Regions from separate parts of the Homo sapiens genome. Here region 2 is linked to region 1. Evidence: fine-mapped expression QTL. A gene starts in region 1. The other region holds a variant in brackets. All regions are shown on one strand. Distances are between the middles of the regions.

Evidence for each region.
Region 2: its variant is fine-mapped to the expression of NT5E in whole blood (INTERVAL, PIP 0.95).

The regions. Positions count from the first base shown.
Region 1 is chr6:85,448,426-85,451,337 of GRCh38, forward strand. It overlaps NT5E (5'-nucleotidase ecto), which reads left to right and starts at 1,658. Exons shown (of 9, transcript NM_002526.4): 1 at 1,658-2,053. The coding sequence starts at 1,715. RefSeq lists a silencer at 1,451-1,720.
Region 2 is chr6:85,414,229-85,417,140 of GRCh38, forward strand. No RefSeq gene overlaps it. Among named protein-coding and RNA genes, the nearest start is that of LINC02535, 11 kb to the left of the region's middle. The variant T/A (reference allele first, on the strand shown) is at 1,198.

The DNA.
Region 1 (2,912 bases):
GCATTCTTCCTAAACATCCACAGCTTCAGTCCAATCATGAGAAAACATCAGACAAACCCAAACTGAGGGATAGTATACAGAAACCAGTACTGTTCAAAAGTGTCAAGGTTTTTGAAGACAACTGACTGAGAAACTGTCACAGATTAGAGGAGGCTAAGAACACAGGAAAACTAACTGCAATATGGTATCCTGAATTGGGTCCTGGAATAGAAAACGGACATTAGTGGAACAGTTGGTGAAATTAAAATAAAATCAGTAACACAGTTAATAGTTTCGTATCACTGTTAAGTTTTTAGTTTCATTGGTTATATAAGCTGTTAACATAAGGCAATATGGGTGATGGGTATGTGGGAACTCCCTTTATTACCTTTGCAACTTTTCTGTAAGTCTAAAATCATTCTTTTTTTAAGTTAAAACAGCAAAACTACCAGTTCTTTTACCTGCTTCTAGCAGGTGCTCAAAGAGGGACAGAGCAAAACCTTGCAAAGCATGACATTAGAGGGTGTCCCAGAAGCAAGGGTCTTCTGTAGCCCCAGGCACTGCTGCTCCCAAACTGCATGGCCTTTCTTGGCAAATGATTTACAATCTCCGAACCTCAGGTCAATGTCTTAAAAACGGGCACAGAATGTCTTTTCAACAAATGGTACTAAGAAAACTGGATATCCACATGAAAAAGAGTAAATGTGGACTCATACCACATATGAAAATTAACTCAAAATGGATTAAAGGTCTAAGAGTTTAAATTATAAAACTCTTAGGAGAAAACATAGAGGAAAATCTTCCTAACATTGTATTTGGCTATGACTTCACTGCGACACCGAAAGCACACGCGACAAAATAAAAATAAAATAAAATAAAATAAGACCAGAAAAGCAAAGAAGGGCAGCATCCCTTCCCGTCCTGATAGCTGCCGGATTTTACCCCAATCGTGTTTCTGCTTCCAGGAGCTGTCCGCGCGTCGCCTCTGTTTTATCACTAAGGTTTTAATTGTGAATAAACAAGGAACTGGATTCGAATGATTTCTTAGTTTCTGAGATTTTTTTGTCTAAGCATCGTAGACTTCGTGCGTTCTCAACCCAACAGGAAGCGTCACATCTCAGTGAGCTTCGGCTCTCACAGCCCGAAACTGCAAGGAGCTCCTCTGCCCGGCCTCTCTTTACTCCTCCTCTCTGCCCCTCAGCTCGCTCATCTTTCTTCCCGCCCCCTCTCTTTTCCTTCTTTGGTTCTTTGAAGTGATGAGCTAGCGCAACCACAAACCATACATTCCTTTTGTAGAAAAACCCGTGCCTCGAATGAGGCGAGACTCAGAGAGGACCCAGGCGCGGGGCGGACCCCTCCAATTCCTTCCTCGCGCCCCCGAAAGAGCGGCGCACCAGCAGCCGAACTGCCGGCGCCCAGGCTCCCTGGTCCGGCCGGGATGCGGCCGGTACCCGCTCCCCGCCGGGAACAACCTCTCCACTCTTCCTGCAGGGAGCTGGTGCCAGCCGACAGCCGCGCCAGGGCCGCTCCGGGTACCAGGGTCGGATCGGGTGACGTCGCGAACTTGCGCCTGGCCGCCAAGCCGGCCTCCAGGCTGAAGAAGGACCCGCCCCGGCCTTGACCCGGGCCCCGCCCCTCCAGCCGGGGCACCGAGCCCCGGCCCTAGCTGCTCGCCCCTACTCGCCGGCACTCGCCCGGCTCGCCCGCTTTCGCACCCAGTTCACGCGCCACAGCTATGTGTCCCCGAGCCGCGCGGGCGCCCGCGACGCTACTCCTCGCCCTGGGCGCGGTGCTGTGGCCTGCGGCTGGCGCCTGGGAGCTTACGATTTTGCACACCAACGACGTGCACAGCCGGCTGGAGCAGACCAGCGAGGACTCCAGCAAGTGCGTCAACGCCAGCCGCTGCATGGGTGGCGTGGCTCGGCTCTTCACCAAGGTTCAGCAGATCCGCCGCGCCGAACCCAACGTGCTGCTGCTGGACGCCGGCGACCAGTACCAGGGCACTATCTGGTTCACCGTGTACAAGGGCGCCGAGGTGGCGCACTTCATGAACGCCCTGCGCTACGATGCCATGGTAAGACCCGAGCCCGCGCCCGGGATAGTAGTCCCGGACTGAGAGAGGAGCCGGGCTGGAAAAGCAGCGGATGGCAGAGTGTGGCAAGCCTAGGTCCAGGGCGCGGAGAGATGTGGGGATAAAGTGAGACTCCGGCCAGTGTGCCAGCTGGATGCATAGAAGTCCCTTGGACGATTCGTCTTAAACGGACGTTATTGCGCCCCCACTATGAGATGGGAGTATTTAGAGGAGCAGGACCCAGTCCTGCCTGCGAGGGGCTTAAGGTGGGGTGCGTAGAAGCACTGACAGTTATCCAGAGCTAGGGACTGAATCGGATCCCTCACGCAGCTCTCATTTACTGCTAGATCTTTCAAAGAATGCTTTATCTCAATCTAGATCTTTCGAAAAATGCTTTATCTCAATCTTATTGAAAGGGAAACCGCGTCGAAGAAGCTGAATAAATTAACAGGCACCATCCCCGCAAAAAGGGAGACGTGATAAGAATGGACACCAGATCTCTTTGACCCCGGAGCTTGAGAGTAATTAAGCTCACAGCTTTGGGGTAGATTCTCTGTTCAATTACCTTCTATGTGACCTTGAGCAAGTTATTTACTCTTTCTTGCCTCAGTTCTATCCTGTATAAAAATAAGGATTATAATTGTACATAGTGCACATAGTGTGGTCTCTATATTATTACCAGACACATAGTGTGGTGTCTATATATGTTGTTATTACCAGACACTATAATATAGGGTTAAGAAAAGGAAAGAAAGAAAGAAAGAGAAAGAAAGAAAGAAACTTCAGAGAGAGCCAAAATGTGGAAAGACTTGGGTTTCAAAGGATTTCAATAAAGTAGGTTTGGCGGCAGAGATTTAGGAAG
Region 2 (2,912 bases), 34 kb before region 1:
GGCCTCAAGTGATGCACCCACCTTGACTTCCCAAAATGCTGAGATTACAGGCATGAACCACCGTGCCCAGCCAAGAGTTCTCTTTTAAGAGTTCCTCAAGCCAGAGCTAAATGTATTTCCTTGACTTTCTTTCTGTTCCACAGTGGTACTTCTAGATTTTGACCATGTTGAGAGCCAGCTGGAGATCCTGGAGGAAAAATATTGTAAACTAACTGCTAGTTTGGTGCTACTTGAAATTTTTCTATTCTTCCGCATCTGCCTATGACTGCAGGTAGAGGGGCAGTAGCACCATCCTCTGAAGAAAGGAACCAGCCACTTGGTAGCAGGTTGACTTTGTTTCATCCTTCAACCCTCACAGGGGCAGTCATTCATCCTGACTGCTAACCTTACTTTTGTAAGCTCCAGGAACACAGATCACTAAGAATTCTAGAGGAGCTATTCCCAGAAGACATACAAAGACTGCAGATCCAAATGACTCAAGAGGTGAAATGTAATGTATGCTGTGGTGTACTTCTCAGATGCCTTCACCTTAGGTCTGAAATACTCATTCCCCAACAATGCCTCCATGCTAAAAGTGTTGGTAACTAATGGGTCTCAGCTGAGCCCCTCTCTAGGCATTACCCTGGAGAGCCAAGCCAAAGGCTACCTTACCCAAGACCACACCGTATCCCTGGAGTCAGCTCACATTCAGTGACTGTTCAAAGCCGAGCATAAAGCTGGGGCAGAATTAATGCAAGGAAAGACCACTCTGAAAGGCCAGGATTCCCTGTGGAACTGACTAAGTCTTTAGTTTAACGCCTTCCTTTGTCCAGTCCCACTTCCTTTATTCCTCCACAAGTGTTGATAGGAGGGTACTGGCCAATTAACCTCCTGCACACAAATTGTCCCAGAGTTTGCTTCCTGGGGACAACGTTATATACTAGGTCTAAGCATGGTATTTATGACAGGAATGGGTTCAGTAATGGGCAAGTAACTTGATTTAGGTAAATACAGTATGCGGAGGTTTGTTCTGGGATCTTCTGGGAAATTTTCCTGACACTAGAGAAAACCATAGGAAGAGATTATCTCTCCTTGAAGTTAAATCTGAACAAGAACTCCTGCAGCTTCCATTGCTGCTGACAAACATATTTTGACCCCCAAAACAACCAGTCTCAGAACAAAGATTATACTGTGATTAACAGAATGGAGAGATGGAAA[T/A]AACCTGAGTTCTTAATGATGCTGAGTTGCAAGATCAATGCACCCTGAAGGCCACCCCATTTTTAGACTTCTCATTATGTAGACCAATAAATTTCTTTATTATTTGAAGCAAACTAGGGGTCTCTTTTTTGTCTGTTTCTGCTACTTACAGCCAAAACATCTGACTGATACAGGTGTGCATCTCACTGACTCTTCCTTCCTATACTGCTTCTGGAGATTTTTATAAACATTCAAAAAATATTGAGAAATTCACAACCCAGAAAAAAAAACTGAACTCTAACTAAGAGCAGGTGGTGGCTGATGGTAAGTTTTCTTTTCCTTTCTTCTTCCTTTCTTTCTTTTCTTTCTTCTATGGGGCACCAATAATACATTTTCTTAAAAAGGGGACCTAGCTAAACAAATATATTTTATGTACAAAAAATAATAATTAAGACCACAATAATTTGTGTAACTGTTTGACAAAAATTATCTTAAATTATACTTTTAGGATCAAAGTACAATCTAGGCCATGAATTTGATGTATAATTGGAACTTCTGAAAGCTCCCTCTGTAATAAACAGGTAAAGTCAGACACGTGGTAATTGCAAAGGGTATTTATATGCCTGTGGAGGAGGAAGAAAGAGATTTTTGCAAAATTGCTTCAGAAGGAAAATGCCAGTAAAACAGATATAGTTCAAAAAATGAACTGTTTGCAACTTAAAAGATAAACAATCCATTATGAAAAACCAAGAAAATGTTACTCATCCCCACACATGGTATCTTGACTCAAACTCTGAAGGTCAGAATAAACTGATTTTTGTCAGGTCAGAAAGGAAAGAGTTTTCAAGAAGCAAAGTGCTCTGCCCTTTCACACAGAACAGCACATTGCCATTCCTTCAGATTCAAGAATATGACAATGGAACACTCTGTTCTGATTTTAACTGTTTTACGAGTCTCTTGTATCTCCTGGATTGATTGTGTTCTTTTCTTCCTCAGCACTAGTCATTTCAAAACTGTTTCTTCAGGCATTTAAATACAAAATCTAAAGATTCCATCATTGTGGATCATAGACAAATCACTGGGCTGAATTTAAGACACAGGCTTTAATGTCATGCCCACCAACGAACTGGGTGGCATTGAACAAATCTCTGTCTCTCTGAGCCTCCATTTCATCATCTCCAAAATGATCTCTTCTCGCTCCATGATTATAGATTTCTTGAGAAATGAGAGGAGCTGTCTGAGTGCTGGGTGGCTTGTGGCAATGATAGCCCATTTTTCTGTCTACCCACCCCCCAACATTTCACACTTCAAAGTCTTAGCCCAATTTATAGCCTGGTCAGTCTGTTATGGGGAAGCTGGAGGCTGAGGAGATTTCTTCATAAATACTCAAGACAGAAACAACAAATCCTCTTCTTCCAAGTCTACAATCAACCTCTATTTTACTTTTGGTGCCTTGAGAGTTAGCCCACATCATCAGTGCAGAAGAAAAATGAATCAAACACTTCAGTTCCTTTTCTGCTGTGAATTTTAGAAATGATCTCAGAGGTCATTCTGTAGCGAGTCTGACTGATTTTGTATAAGTTAAGGTGGTGGTGAGTAAGGACTGAATAAACCTAGAGTCCTTCAGAGACGTATTAATAAGTTTGAGTCTTCAAACCTATACAAAATTTGCTCTTTGTTCTCTAAGTCTAACCCCAAATACCTAGGAAGATCCTCAGGCCACAGCATCAAAGCCA